Linked DNA regions of Homo sapiens: region 1 is linked to region 2. A link means that fine-mapping ties the variant in region 2 to the expression of a gene that starts in the linked region. Tissue or cell type: esophagus muscle. Region 2 holds a variant in brackets; the other region holds the start of a gene. All regions are shown on one strand. Distances are between the middles of the regions.

What was found. PIP is the estimated chance that this variant, and not a neighbour inherited with it, causes the effect.
Region 1: MCPH1-DT starts here. The variant in region 2 is fine-mapped to the expression of MCPH1-DT in esophagus muscle (GTEx, PIP above 0.99).

What each region holds. Positions count from the first base shown.
Region 1 is chr8:6,402,887-6,411,000 of GRCh38, reverse strand. MCPH1-DT (MCPH1 divergent transcript) reads left to right here and starts at 4,453. Exons shown (of 2, transcript NR_040040.1): 1 at 4,453-5,295; 2 at 5,881-7,445. It overlaps MCPH1 (microcephalin 1), which reads right to left and starts at 4,374. Exons shown (of 14, transcript NM_024596.5): 1 at 4,312-4,374; 2 at 1,631-1,722. The coding sequence starts at 4,333. RefSeq lists silencers at 4,113-4,292, 4,553-4,632.
Region 2 is chr8:6,613,123-6,621,122 of GRCh38, reverse strand. The region is part of intron 12 of MCPH1 (microcephalin 1); the gene reads right to left. It overlaps MCPH1-AS1 (MCPH1 antisense RNA 1), which reads left to right. Exons shown (of 5, transcript NR_125386.1): 4 at 899-988; 5 at 1,921-5,520. Among named protein-coding and RNA genes, the nearest start is that of MIR8055, 5.1 kb to the left of the region's middle. RefSeq lists an enhancer at 4,547-5,048. The variant T/G (reference allele first, on the strand shown) is at 3,711.

The sequences.
Region 1 (8,114 bases), 210 kb after region 2:
CTCCTGCCTCAGCCTCCCGAATCACTGAGACTACAGGTGTGTGCCACCACACCTGGCTTTTTTTTGTATTTTTAGTAGAGATGGGGTTTCACTATGTTGGCCAGGCTGGTCTCGAACTCCTGACCTCAGGTGATCCGCCTGCCTTGGCCTCCTAATAATGCCTGTTTTCTAAACATGCATTCCATGAATCCCAACTATGCTTGTGCAGATCATGTACTTCATTTTTCCCCACAGCTTAGATCACCCTACTTCCCTAACTGATAAATATCCCTAAGCCTTATCTTTGGGAATGAAGATGTGAGTACTCTTCTGCCTCCTAGCTGGGCTTCCCCGTGAATGAATCTTTTCCCTTTTGTAAAACCCGTCATCAAAGTGATCGGTTTAGTGTGCGTGGGCAAAAGATACCTATTTGGTATCAAGGACATTATTAAGTCAAATAGAGGCTACCTGAACACAAGCAGTACGTGATAGTAAATCTGATAACAGAGATGGCTATACTAAGAAACCTTGAATAAGGCAAATTGTTTGCTATCTCCATTTCCTCATAGCTCAATGATTCCTGCCCATTTCACTGAAAACTGCACTAAGTTCAGCAATGACCTTACAGTGTTCAAATCCAAAGTACATTTGCCCATCCTATTTTTCTTGAACTTTCTGTAGTTTTTAAAAATTCTATCTTTAAAATTACTCCATTCTAGTTCTGAAAGGCAATTAAAAAATTACTCCTGGCCGGGCTCGGTGGCTCATGCCTGTAATCCCAGCACTTTGGGAGGCCGAGGTGGGCGGATCACGAGATCAGGAGATTGAGACCATCCTGGCCAACATGGTGAAACCCCGTCTTTACTAAAAATACAAAAAAAAAAATTAGCTAGGCATGGTGGCATGTGCCTGTAGTCCCAGATACTTGGAAGGCTGAGGCAGGACAATCGCTTGAACCCAGAAGGCAGAGATTGCAGTGAGCTGAGATCGCGTCACTGCACTCCAGCCTAGCGACAGAGCGAGACTCCGTCTCAAAAAAAAAAAATTACTCCCTACTTTGACTTCCACACTTCCTTTCTCCTTCTCCTGGCATTCTTCTCTCCCTCTGTCACTGGGTCCCTGCTCCCATCGCCTGTCCTTGAATACTGAACAACGCTCCTCTGTCACCACTCTTCATCCTAACCATGCCTGACATGGGACGATGTCCACACCTGTGACTTCACATGACCCCTATGGTCCTGACCCCCTAGATCATCATCTCTAGCCTTGAACACTCCAAGCTCCAGACTTGTATATCCAAATATCTAACAGATATTTTTCAGTATGCCCAAATTTACAATTTTTCCCTTAGAAACCTGTTCCTTTTCCTGTATTCCTCACTTTGCTTAATAGCACTATGCATTCAAGTAACCAGTGTAAGAATCCAGCATTTCATCCTAGGTTCCTCCTCCTCACTCAATGCCCACAGGCATTGAGTTCTGAAAGTCCTACTGTTCTAAATTCTTCACACTTTGGCTCTTTTTTCTCCCACCGCTTACCCATTGCTTCGTCCAGATTCTAAGTAAAAACTCCCAAAATAAGAAAATGCAAATGTAACTTTTTACCAATCAGAAGACTGTCATATGAATCAACAGCAAAATAAGTGTCTTACCTTTGCCCCCATATCCACAAGCTGTGTTGTAAATGTCTTTGAATAATTTTCTGTTCCATTGGATGACCACACTTCAACATAGGCCACTACATCTGAAAACAAGATATGAACATGAAACATACATTTGAAATTCCAGCATCCCCTGCCCAATAGATTTTGTTCTATTTACATTTAAGAGTAAACCGAGGCCGGCACAGTGGCTCACGCCTGTAATCCCAGCACTGTGGGAGGCGGAAGTGGGTGGATCCACGAAGTCAGGGGTTTGAGACCAGCCGGGCCAACATGGTGAAAAACCATCTCTACTAAAAGATACAAAAAATTAGCCGAGCATGGTGGCGGGCACCTGTAATCCCAGCTACTGGGAGGCTGAGGCAGGAGAATCACTTGAACCCGGGAGGCAGAGGTTGCAGTGAGCCGAGATTGCGCCATTGCACTCCAGCCTGGGTGACAGGGCGAGACCCGTTTCAAAAAAAAAAAAAGAAAAAAGTAAAACAAAAATTTACTCTACTGGCCAGGTGTGGTGGCTCATGCTGTAATTGCAGCACTCTGGAAGGCCAAGGCAGTGGGATCACTTGGGCACAGAAGTTTGAGACCAGCCTGGGCAACATAGTGAAACCCTGTCTCTAAAAAAAATTTTGTTTTTAATTAGCCAGGAATGGTGGCGAGTGGCTGTAGTCCCAGCTACTGGGTGGGAAATGGGGGTGGGTAGGGTGGAGAAGCTGAGGTGGGAGAATCCCTAGAGCCCAGGAGGTAGAAGCTGAGTTATGATCGCACCATTGCACTCCAGCCTGGGCAGCAGAGAAAGACCTTGCCTCAAAAATAAGAAAAGTAAATGAAGTTTCTTCTACTGGCTGAACAAAGTAGCTCATGCCTGTAATCCCAGCATTTTGCAAGGTGGAGGCGGGAGGATTGCTTGAGGCTAGGAATTCAAGACCAGCCTAGGCAACATAGTGAGACCCTGGCTCTACAAAAAAATAATAAATTAAAAAATAAAAATAAAAATAACCGGGCGTGGTAGTGCCTGTAGTCCCAAGTTACTCAGGAGGCTGAAGCAGAATTGCTTGAGCTATTATGTGATCACATCACTGCGCTCCAGCCTGGGCAAGAGAGTAAGACTCTGTCTCATAAATAAATTTCTACTGAAAGCCTTTTCAAAATAGCTTCAGTGGAATTTATTAAAATTTTAAGCAAAGAACAACTGTACCCATACAATACATGAGAGTTTACATTTGTAAAATTAGTTGCTTTCCCCAAATTCTTACGCTTAATTTTTCCAGTGCAGAAACCTATTTTCTGTAAAGAGACAGATGGTAAATATTTCAGGCTTTGTGGCCAATACAGTATTTGCCACAACTACTCAACTTCACGGTTGTGGCACAAACATAACCATAGGTAATATATTAACGGGCCGGCCTGTGTTCCAATAAAACTTTATTTATGGAGAAGGAAATGTGAATGTGATATAATTTTTCATTTGACCTTTTTTTAAAATCACTTAAAAATGTAAAAGACATTCTTAGCTCGTAGACCCTTACAAAAACAGGCAGCAGGCTAGATATGGCCTGGGGGGCATAGTGAGTGGACCCCTGTTCTAGTGGATATCCTCTTCTCAAAACCTGATGTTTAAAAGCATTTTCCAGGTGTGCCGTTGGTCAATGATTGGGGGTAACGCTAAAAGAAAACCAGGTTAATTTAACAAAATACTAACATTAGAAAAATAGCCACATCTGATTACAGACTTTGTATAAAGCCTCTAGTCTTTACTTTTGGCTATGAGGTTTTATGACTCCAGGCCCCACAATACAGGCCCCTTTTTTCTCACGGTCAAACTCTACAAGACACGTGTCCGCTATTCCCCTCTCCTGGGCTCTTCCAGGTGCACAGAGGGTGGGACTGCGTGCGGTATCATATACTGGTTAGGACAGCAGCTCCGGTCTAAGGCCCTGTCAGCACTGACTAGCCACACACAGGGAGAGTCACCTAAACGTCCGATGCCTTAGTTTCTGCCTGTAAAATGATATAAGAGAGTTGATAGAGCGGTTAAAAAAATCAGACAATACCATACTAGCCTAAGCACAGCGCCTGGCACACAAAGACTCCGCAGTAAAAGGCGGCTCCTATTATTGGAACAATTAGCATAGAAACTCAACTGCCGCTCCTCCAGGTGGGCCTCAGAGGGGGTCGAACAGGACCAGACCCAGGAGGGCCCCACACCAACTTCCGGAGGGCAGGACTCTGCCTGCCAGTGAGCCCCAGATCCAGGGACTAAGGCAGCAGGGGTGAAAGCAGGTAGGGGGAAAGGCGGGATTTGGGGGACAGGCAGCATGGGGGAGGGAGCAGGCAGCGGGGGATTGAGGGGAACTAGCAGCACGGGGGTTGGGGCACAAGCAGTACGGGGGAGGAAGCAGGCAGTCGGGGGTTTGGGGGGACAGGGAGCACGGGAGACGAAGCAGGCAGCCGGGGGTTTTGGGGGGACAGGCAGCGGGGGAGAGAGCAGGAGCAGGGGGTTTTGGTGGGACAGGCAGCGGGGGAGGAAGGAGGCGGCAGGGGGTCTGGGGGAGACAGGCAGCGAGGGAGGGGCGAGCGGGGCTCCTCCCACGGGATCCCCCGAGTGCGCCCGCGACGAGGGGTGCCGGTCCTCAAACTCCCGCTGCTGGAGCAGGCAGCAGGAAGTACCTCACCTTTCAGGATGGGGGCCGCCATGACAGACGGCGGGATCCGGCCAGCTGGCCTACGCGGTGCTTGCGAGCCTGGCGGCGCGCGCGGGCACTGGGCATGCGCGGGGTGAGCGCGCCGCCGTCACCGCGCTCCGCTGAATCCGCGTTTCCGGGATTTCTCTGTAGGTGAGGCGGGAGGCTGGAGGGAGCTGAGCCCCCGGGGAGGGGGCCCGATTCCGCCTCGCCGCGCCTCTGGCTGCTGGGCCGTGGGTTTTTCTCTTCTCCTGGGAGTAAGGAGGACGACGGCCCCTAACCCCTGAATTAGCCTTCTATTTCCATTAGTGACTTAGAAGCTACCCGGCGCCTCATCTGGGCTCACCTGAGCTGAGGATCAGGAAGGGGAGGGGGCACAGTCATTCCCTCGCGGACGCGGCGGGACCCCAGCGGACGGCTTTGTGCGGACTTTCGGCACCGTTATGCCCCCCTAGCCCGACACCACCTGGGGCTGGCGCGCCACGTTACTGTTCAGGGCCAGACGCACCGCCCTGCCTGCTCCGGGGAGCCGGACCTCCGATCCCGGGGATGGGGGACCCCGAGACCTCAGACCCAACGGAGGGGACTCTGATACCTCAGACCCCACGCGGGGACCCCGAGGCTTCAGACCCCCACAGGGTGACCCCGAGATCTCAGACCCCCGCAGGAGTACCTCCAGACCTCAAATCCCCAGTAAGGGAATGAAAGAGACTTCGGATCCCTGAGGCAGCAAATCCCTGTAGGGGCATCCCAGGACTCAGGTCACCGCGGGGTGAACCCAGACCTCACATTCAGGCAATCCCCAGGACGCCGATCGGCTGGCACTACCCACTGTCCCGGCCACCCCCCCTGGAGCTCAAAGGCTTGGCCCTCCAGCTGCTCCACCCTGCCGGCAACCAGGCTCAAACCTGCAGCCCGCGGATCCCCTGCCCCGGAAGCAACCAGATTCGCGGGAGGTTACCTGACTGATCCAAGGTGATACAGCTGGTAACTGATGGAGATGTTGGTAGTGAAATTCATGTACTTTTAGTTCTTTCTATGGAATCTAGAGGTAGAATACATGTAAAAGAATATCGACTACCGTCTACTCAGGTCTCTGTTTTATCTGTTTATTCATTCACTCTCAGCTTTTAATAGGATCCAATGAGCCCTCTGTGGTTCTGAAGAATTGCCTTGAGTATATGCAGCCTCAAAAAACCCACTTCCTAGGCTCAGTCTTTGATCAATATTTATCATTATCACCAGTTATTGTTCTAATAAACTCTACTCTGGAAATATGGTGTTATGGTTTACTTGGGAGTGTGAGTTCAGGGCATCATTGAAGACTCACGTACTTTTACTGAGAAAGTGACATTGATCTCTGTAGATTTTGAATTAAATGATATGATGAAGTATATAAACCAATTACTTTTGGTCAAGGTGGTAAAAAAAGTTTAGTATTTGATAGATTCTTCATCTCCACGATCACAAATATTTTCTCCTAGGATTTCTTCTAGAAATATTACTGCTTTAGGTTGTATATCAGGTCTAGGTTCTACTTTTTTTTTTTTTTTTCTCCAGGCAGTTTCTCACTCCGTTGCCCAGGCTGGAATGCAGTGGTGTAATCACAGCTCACTGCAGCCTCAACCTACTGGACTCAAAGGATAAGATCTGCTTTTAATTAATTTTTGTATACGGTATGGGATAGGGACCAAAGTTCATTTTTTTGCATGTATACATATCCAAATGTTCCAGCATCATTTATTAAAAAGTTATTTTTGTCTCTACTGCATTTCCTTTGTGCTTACATCAAAATCTGTGTTGCATATGTATGTGTTTCATTTTAGGCTTCCTATTGTGTTCCATTGAGCTATTTGTCTTTTTGCTGCCAGCACCATGCTGTTTTGATTATTGTAGCTATATAAATAAGTGATGAAATCAGATAGTTTATGTCCTACAACTTTATTTTTCAAGGTTATTTTGTATCTTCTAGATTCTTCAGATTTCCTTTTAAATCTTAGAGTCGACTTCTCATTTTGCACAAAAAAATACTGCTGGGATTTTGATTGAGATTGTGTTGACTCTACAGATGAATTTGGGGAGAATTGACATTTTAACCATATTGAATCTTCTGACCCATTAACATTTAGGTCTTTTAAAATTTCTCTGGCCAGACGCAGTGGCTCACGCCTGCCACTTTGGGAGGCCAAGGCGGGCCGATCACAAGGTCAGGAGATTGAGACCATCCTGGCTAACACAGTGAAACCCCATCTCTACTAAAAATACAAAAAATTAGCCGGGCGTGGTGGCATGCGCCTGTAGCCCCAGCTACTTGGAAGGCTGAGGCAGGAGAATGGCATGAACCCGGGAGACAGAGCTTGCAGTGAGCAGAGATCTTGCCACTGCACTCCACCTGGGGCAACAGAGCGAGACTCCATCTCAAAAAAAAAAAATATAACTGTTGTTAGATTTTAACCTAAGTATTTGTTTTTTTATTTTGTTTTTCTTTTTTTCTTCTTTTTTTTTTTTTTTTTTTTTTGAGACAGGATCTCACTCTGTCTCCCAGGCTGAAGTGCAATGGTGTGATCATGGCTCATCTTGAAGCCTCGACCCTCCTGGGATCAAGCTATCCTCCCACCTCAACCTCCTGAGTAGCTGGGACTACAAGTACACATGACCATGCCCAATTCATTTTTTAAATTCTTTGTAGAGGCGGAGTCCCACTATGTTGCCCAGGCTGGTCTTGAACTCCTGGGCTCAAGCAATCCTCCCACCTCAGCTTCCCAAAGTGTAGGGATTACAGGCATGAGCCACTGTGCAAGGTCTTGTGTTTTTTGATAATATCGTAAATGGTGATTTTTTCATTTGTTTCTGATTGTTGCTAATATATGGAAATATAGTTGATATCTGCAATTGATCTCATGTCCTGAAAACTTGCTAAATCTGCTTAATAATTTTTTGTACATTCAAAATGATGTTCTACAGGTAGTCGTATTGTCTATGTTGGAAGGAAAGCTTTTCCTCATTCAATGTCGGTCCTGTGTTTGAAGACCTGCAAATTAACTGATAACAACAGGTTAACAGGAGAAAAGACAAGGTTTAGAGTAACTCACTAAATAGAAATAAAGGTTTATAGATCCACTTAACAAAATGTGTTGGGAGATTTTGGAGTTTCAGTAGGAAGTTGTGGAAGGTTCTTTTGGGCTTTTGGATGCTTATGAGAATGGGCAATCTGTCTCTACAGTAGTGGAATTTACAGGAAACTTCCTCAGAGGGAGGCCAATGGCAGCTGTATTTTCTGGGGGCTCTGCTTTAGTGAAATAAGGGAAGTTCAAATAAAATTTCTTGATGCGTCTTTCTTAGATCAAATATTTTCACAGTAAAATAATCTTTATACCAACTTTTAGGGCCTGAATGGTCCACACATTTCTCCATCTGAAACTTCCCTAGAAATTTCATTAACAAAAAAAAGAAGCTAAGTTGATTGCTGTGGGGAGATGATTTGAGTTAGAAATTGTAAGATGAGAGATCTGTAAAAGGGGGAAAAACATAGATTAGAACAAGGAAACAAAAACAATGATTAATGTTCAGAGCAGACGATAAACCCAGTCTAGAGGGTAAGCCAGTTATGAAATTTTCTAGATGTTGGGCTCCAGCTATCTTTAGTGAGGATGGTAGTGGTAGGTAGTGTTGCCATCATGGTTATTTCCTAGAGCACAGTCTGGAAGATGCAGGTGTTCTGGGGAAATATTTGAAAGACCCACGTGTTGTGATAAGTCTTTTGAAGTTTCTGTCTAGCCATCCAGCTTCAGCTT
Region 2 (8,000 bases):
ACTAAAGTAACTTGGTGACGTGTGCAAGTGACGGCAAGATTCTAATGCACTGCAAATGCCGGCTGTGCTGGGAGAGCGTCATTCAATCCAGCGCGCTCCAGGCTGTTGGCAGAAAAGGACTTTTATAGGATGTAAGAAATGCTGTAAATCCAATACCATGGTCTGGACGGGGAAAGGGAGAGTGAGGCAATGCAAAAGTAGAATTCCTAGAGCCATTCCCGAAACACGCTGGGTTTGGGGGAGAGAGGTGTCTCGAGATTGTTTCAATGAGCTGTTGGGAAACATTTCAGAAGCAGGGATGTGAAGCTGCTCTGCTTCTCATTCTGGCAATGTGTGGTCATCTGTTTGACTCAGAGGACCGCGGGAAGGCCCAGTTATTCTGAACACGCATTTTCCTAACTACGGGTTGGTAAAGACTTCTTCAGTGTACACACCCTGCGAGATGCTATGGGTTATGTGCCATCCACGTTTTGTTTTGCGTATTTTCCCTGCTTATTTTTCCTACAATATCTGAAATTAATGGTTCACACAAATTAGAGATTTGAGGGGATGTATTTCGGGGAAGGGATGAAGGGACCTTCTCAGAGGAGTATAACCTGGGGTGGGGTGACGTCGGGGTCCTCTCAGTCAGGGGCAGCAGGCAAGGCTGACCTCGGAGGCAGGGGTAGGGTGCAGGTTGGGGGAAGAGCAGCAAAGAGTAAATTCCACAGCCCACATCACTCACAAAATCAGAGAAACAGTGAACTATTCTTCTGCTAGGTTTTCCTACTACTGTAATATTTAACAAAAGAGGATCCTACTGTGAAAATATAGCTCCAGCATCAATGGAGTAGATCCGATACACTTATATATGCTCATGGAATTTGCTTGTTCTCTCCCCTTGTGTTGAATTTTATAGCATAATAAATACCGAGCCTCAGCAGCTTTCATGTGCCTTGCAGGAGACAGTGGCAGCAGGGGCAAATGATTCTTCCTGGATGGTGACTTTGTGAGTATTTTTGGCACTATATCCTGCGAGATAGGCAGTGGAAAGGGCTACTGATTTAATTTGCAGACAAAGAGACTGAGCTGATGCAAGGCAAGAGATTTGCTTTGGCAAATGGTGAGTCACACTGCAAGAAAAAGCCATGGTCCCTAGCATCACGGGGCCAAGCTGCATGGAAATGGAATCAAGAAAGAGTATCTTTCATTTTAAAGTAGGACACACATACATTCAAAAAGTTAATTATGAAAGTATCTGGCCGGGCACGGTGGCTCACACCTGTAATCCCAGCACTTTGCGAGGCTGAGGCGGGCAGGTCACAAGGTCAGGAGATCAAGATCATCCTGGCTAACATGGTGAAACCCTGTCTCTACTAAAAATACAAAAGATTAGCCAGGCGTGGTGGTGGGCACCTGTAGTCCCAGCTACTCGGGAGGCTGAGGCAGGAGAATGGTGTGAACCCGGGAGGTGGAGCTTGCAGTGAGCTGAGATTGTGCCACTGCACTCCAGCCTGGGCAATAAGAGCAACACTCTATCTAAAGAAAAAAAAGGCTGGGCGCAGTGGCTCACGCCTGTAATCCCAGCACTTGGGGAGGCTGAGGTGAGTGGATCACTTGAGGTCAGGAGTTCGAGACCGGTCTGACCAACATGGAGAAACCCCATCTCTACTAAAAATACAAAAACTAGCCGAGCATTTTGGTAGGCGCCTGTAATCCCAGCTACTCGGGAGGCTGAGGCAGGAGAATCGCTTGAATCTGGGAGGTGGAGGTGGCAGTGAGCAGAGATGGCGCCACTGCGCTCCAGCCTGGGCGACACAGCAGGACTCTGTCTCAAACAATAAAATAAAGTATTTGATTGTTGAAGCAATACGGAAGGGTATAAAGTAAAAAGGGGCTTTTCCTGTTAGACACTGTTGTCTGTGTCTTCTTTATTGGCAGAACAAAGACTTCTTCTGGGGGGCACCGATCTCCACCTGGCCATGTCTTCAAGCCCAAGGAGAAGTCCCAGGATGGGTCTGAGCTAATCACGGTGATCGCAATACAAATGACTGCGCTAAGCATGGCACAGCTGGCCTCAATCCTGGCCAATGCAACGTGAGAATCAATTGCTGGTGGGATTCTGGGGGAGTTTTTCTCACTGTTATAAACAGATGCAAAGCAGAAATACTTCTCTTTGCTGGACACTGTCATGTCTAATGTGACGCCTGGATCACTGAAGCCCCCAGAGGCCACGGGACACGCTGAAAATGGCCCAGTGGGAAGGCGGAAAGCCTTGGGTCCTGAAAAACACTTCTAAGTCACTGACGGACCAAACTGAAATCATCCTTTATTTTGTTCTTTTCATGTCAGAAAAAAAGACCCCTAAATTCTTTAAGTGACTTTTTTGTTAAGTTTTTGTTTCTAGAAGCCCAAAATATCCTAATAATAATAATTTTAAATAATCCACCTATTTTTGGAAATAGCTTGTTCATCATTGAGATTATGAATAATAGATCAGTTCTCACCCCTGCCTTCCCCACCATTTACCAGAGTTAACAACTGTGAAAAATTCTCTGTGTATTTTTAAAAATCCTGTAAAATGCACACACAACACACACACACATTTATGATAATGCTTGTTCTTAACCAAAAACTGAGATCTAATCTCTATCTCACTATATGGATAAGCAGTAAATAAACCTTTTTGTAATGCAGTAGAAAAGGAAATCAACCTCTCGAATGTTTAGGATGTGACTTCAGTAGCTAGTTTCTTTGTGCTGTGACACTGCCTTCAGAATTCTGATCTTGGCCAATTTTCCTATCCAGCAAATAAAGCACCATTTCCCCCACACTGGTACATTTTAAAAAGTTAGCTGTGAATTCTAAGCTGCAAATATTAGATGCAGCAGGCGGTGTTCTCATTGTATCACCACTGGCTCTCGCCAAGGAGCCTGTGTGTTACCTGGAGATCAAGGCGAAAAGCCTCAAACGCACAAATTCTGAAGTCAACTTGCTGTTTATTATTTTCATGGATTTTTCAATACCCTTGGTAATCGCAATTTACAGCAATGTGCTCTAAACTCTAACTTCAGCTGGGCAAAGTGGCTAACACCTGTAATCCCAGCACTTTGGGAGGCTGAGGTAGTTGGATTGCTTAAGCCCAGGAGTTTGAGACCAGCCTGGGCAACATAGGCAGACCCCATCTAGATAGATAGAAAGATAGATAGATAGATAGATAGATAGATAGATAGATAGATAGATTAGATAGATAGATAGATAGATGGATGATAGACAGACAGACAGACAGACATAGATAAGCAAGCCCGGCATGGTGTCACATGCCTATAGTTTCCGCTACTTGGGAGGCTGAGGTGGGAGGATCACTTGAGCCCAGGAAGTTGAGGCTGCAGTGAACTGTGATTGTGACCCTTCACTCCAGCGTGGGTGACAGAGCGAGACCCTGTCTCAAAACAATACAACTCCCCACCCCCAACAAAAACCAATGATTCTAATTTCATTGCAAACCTTTACACACACACACACATGCACACACCCCAGAAACAGGAGTGCGTGCAGGACATGTGGAGGGGACAGACGTAAGTTGGGGAACGATGGCTCGGTGGCATCGTGTTGTTTTATTTTTGTTGTTACCTCAGTGAAAACCTCAGATATAACCAGGCTCATCTATTTATATATTGACCCAGAAGTTTCTAGCTAAAAAATGTTAAAAGATAATTTTTTAAAAATCA[T/G]AACTTTTGGGAAGCTGAGGCAGAAGAATGGTGTGAACCTGGGAGGAGGAGCTTGCAGTGAGCCGAGATTGCGCCACTGTACTCCAGCCTGGGCGACAGAACGAGATTCCACCTCAAAAAAAACAAAAAAAAAAACAAAAAAAACACCCCCCCCCCACCAAAAAACCCATAACTTTCATACAGGTATAAAATAAACAACAGTGTATTCATTTTACTTAACTCAAATGCTATAACTGGTTCAAAGGACAATCCGAAGAACACATTTAATGATTAGGAATACTGATATAAACTTGCTAATGGACAAAAAATATTGGCTTTCCTACAAGGTAGGAAGCATTCCCTCTACCAGACAGAATTCATTTCCTGCCCACAGACAAGCGCGTTTGCATTGCCAGCAGCTATTTACAACTTATGAAGCTGTAAAACAGCTCCCAAGCAATGAAGGCTGCAAGCAGATAAGGTGGCAGGCCGTGAGCAGGCCTCAAATGGAGTTTTACAGTGAAGCACAAATGTTCCCCTACAGAACCCAAGATGTCTCTTTAAAAGAAATCATGAAAGAAGAGGGGATTAAGTGGAGCTTATGGACTGCTCCAGGGTTAAGTGGCCTCCAAAATAAACAACAGGACTGCTCAGTAGTCAGAGTGAATTTTGGGTGGGGTTTGAAAGAGTTCCAGCTTTCCTCTGCTAATGGTGACATAAAATGTTCATTTCATACCCATGCATATACACTGATGTATACATGTAGTTGAGGAGGCAGTGGCAGAAGCCAGAAGGCTTTCTCTGCCATGAGCTCCTCCTAGGAGCCCTGGGTTGCAGAGGGTGAGGACTGCTAGGAAAGTCCGTCAGTTAAGGCCGAAGGGACATTAGCTTTGCCTTAAACCACATTGGCTGTGCTTGCCTTTGTGTCTTCACCTGATTTAATGGGTTTTAGCTCACACTCTCCGAATCTATTTACCTCCAAGTCAGTTAAGGCAGACTGTACTGTTGACAAAGCTAAGCAGAACAGAATTTCCCCATGGCTTCTAGCTTCAAGGAATCCCAGCTATTTATCCATCACCAAGAAATGAAGCCCCATGGGTGGCTGACGGTTCATTTACTCCAGCCCAGGGTGTTGGATTTCAATTAGTGCATTCGCTTTTCCCTCTAGGCAGAGCTCACCCTTTAAAGTCGCTCCTTGGCCTGCTAACTGTCTTAAGATGCACTTTCCCATCTCAACAATGATACAGGACGTGTCTTACAGGGCTGTAGTTCTCATTCACAGCATTCTTCCTCTGAGTGGTCCAGGAAATACTCGCAGGCCTTACAGTCAAGTCACCTTAGATTTAAAGTACGGAATACGCGAAACCTTCCTAACTGGTAAAGCGCTCAGTAATGCAAGCTCTGGGTGCAACTCAGTGGTTCTTAGTATAGTCAGAGTTATGCGATCATCAGCACAATCTACTCACACCCTCCTCGAGGTATTAAATAAATATTTCAGAATCCACAATGCAGCCAATCTCATCAATAACTTTACTGAATCCTGTAGCCCAGCACTCAGGGGTTCTCTAAAACCCTGCCCCGCCTTCCCCTCCAATTGCGGTGCCCACTGTCTCTTTTAAATAGACTCTGTCCTCATCAAGCCTGTTCTCTGTCCCCCAAATATGCCGTATCATTCCTTAATGCATGCATTTTTTCCCCAGTTCCCTACAATCTTATAATTAGTGGTTACGCTAATCTATATGTGTGTTTAAACTCATAGAATTGTATACAAAAAAGTCAACTGTACTGTGTACACACATTTAAAAGATAAAATGTGTTCTTTTAACGCTTACATTGGTCTACTTTCCATTTTTTCTTGGATCCTGGCAAGGCCTTCCTGTGCTTCCTAAGACATAAAATCCTCCTCCCAGCACCTGCCTCCTGCCCCCAACTCAGGGCTGAGCCACAGAATCAATGCACGCATCCCCACATCACCCCCTGCAGAAGTACCTGCACATTCGTTCGTTGTGTCGTTAAGTGAACTCATTTCATTGTGAGTATCAGGCTAAGTTCTGAGGATGCAAAAATGCAGGGACATGGTCTTTGCTTCTCAGGACACCCTAGAAGTTACACACATTTCATGGGCAGGAAAGTGGGAGCCTGAGTAGGCTTGGGGCATTGAGGGAGGACTTCCTGATGGTGGCATGTGACATGGAGTCGTGAGCAGAAAGACAGTTCCTCACGGAAAGCACACAGGAGCCCCTCAGGTCCTGAGACCTGGGTGTCTGAAGACTCACGGCATGTGTGAATGCAGCCCAGGGGATCGGCAGGCAATAATTGCAAGAGCTAACTTGCTAAAACATTCACATGCACGCCAAGTGATGAGGTGTGGACCAGACCGTTCGTGCTTACGCAGTGTGAGCGTGGTTACTGGGGACCTTAGAAACCTGAGCAGACAAGGCCATGGGGGGATCCGTGTGTTAGGAGGCTCACTATGCAGACAACGTGGAGGACAGATGGAGGGGTTGAGATCAGGAAGACCCAAGAAAAAGGGATGGAGTAGGGTGGGGTATGGGGTTGGGGAAGGGAGGGAGATTCAAGACAGAATGAAAAGTCAAACTCACCAGGAATCCAGTAATGTGACTGGCTTCCTGTGTGCAAATGGGGAGGTGAACACTAAGATACCACGGGGGCCACACAGGCATGTGTAAGAAAGCTCAGCTGTCGAGGTTTTGAGGTTTCCAATGAATAATCCATCTTTTTTGCCCCCAGCTTCAATAACAACTGAGAGGCAGATATAGGCATTGAACTACAGAGACAAGTCACGTTGATTATTCATAAGGCTGGCTGCAGATTGGGCGTTAGGCCAACGGACGTGTGTGTTTGCTAATGTCCTCTGATAACTTAGAAAGACCACCCACCAAGCCACATGGGCACTGGACAAAGGGCCTGCCTCCACGCAGGGAGGGACAAGAGGGGGCGAGAAATCAGGCTTTTTCCAGGAGGCAGTACGTAGTTGTGGTAAGATTTGATTAAGTTGGTCTTCCTCTGGAGGAGATGGGGGTGAGGGGAGGAGGCGCCAGCCTGGCAGCGGAAAGCTATAAAGGAGGCAGGCCCCTCACCACGCATGGGAGGAGGCAGGCATCTGAAACCTGGGGCACCTGACCGTCTTCCATCGTGAGTCCTGTCCGAGCGGCCAAGCTTTGGTGAAAGCCCTGGCTCTGCACAACCGTCTCCAAAACCATATCCTAGTGCTGATCATTGCAAAAGAGGTGAAGTCAGACCCAGAGGCCACCATTTGGAAAAACAAAACATTTTTAGGAGTCTAACCTTCTAAAATAATTCTCAGTGTAGAGTTACACGTGACAATGTGGCCTGCACTGAGCCCATCAAAGTCGGCATTAACTGGTCTTTGGCACCAGGGAGAAGTACAAACGATGTCTGCAGCCTGTGGACCTTAGAAAAACCAGAGAAATAGGAACGGAGCACACCATTAACTATTCTGGTGATCACTTCAATCCCATTAAAGTAAAAAAGGTCTTCAGATGGGGAAGTCATGGAGGCTCCTGAAACTCTGCATCAAGTCTTCTCCCTTGGCGATCAAAAGCATCCCTGCCCCTGGCTGCCACCTCAAAGCGTCCTGTTCCCTGGCCGTCCACAAGCCAGCTCCACACCCCGTGCTGCTAGACGGGGGTGCCCACTTCAACCTCGCTGTTACTGTCATTCCTCTCGGCCCTGATGACTCTGTCTCTATCTCCATCACTGATCCTGTCCCACTTCCTGGAAGTCTCAGGACATCCACAGGTGCCCCTTCCAACCCCCTCACCCCCCGGTCCCTTGGGCTCCTGTCTCCCCGGGGAACTGCAGAATCCCTTGCAGCTTCCTCCGTAGCTGCCACCTCCCACCTTGTCTGCAGCCCCAGGCCCCTGCCCAGCGGATGCGACTGACTCCCGCCTTCACCCCTCCATGTCCCAGCCCCTAAACCAGCACACAGCCCACCACCCCCCCGTGACTCCCTGGCCCTTCTCTCCACGTCAGACTGAGTCAAACCACAACCCGGGTTAAATTCAGATGCCGAGCTTCTCTGCACCGGCATCGCCGCGGGTGAATCTGGCTGGTGTGCCAGTCCCCTGACCGTTGGCCGTGTGGCCCTCCGTGTTTCTATCCACTGTTTCTACCCGGCTCGTCCTCCCCTCCTCTGCCTGGCCATTCCCGTCTGCCTGGCCTTCAGCCTATAAGCCCTTTCTCACGCTCAGCCGTGGCTCCCCACTGAGGACAGTGGAGTAACAGAGATGTCTCCTGCTTCCCGGCACCCGGCACCTGCTGCAGGCC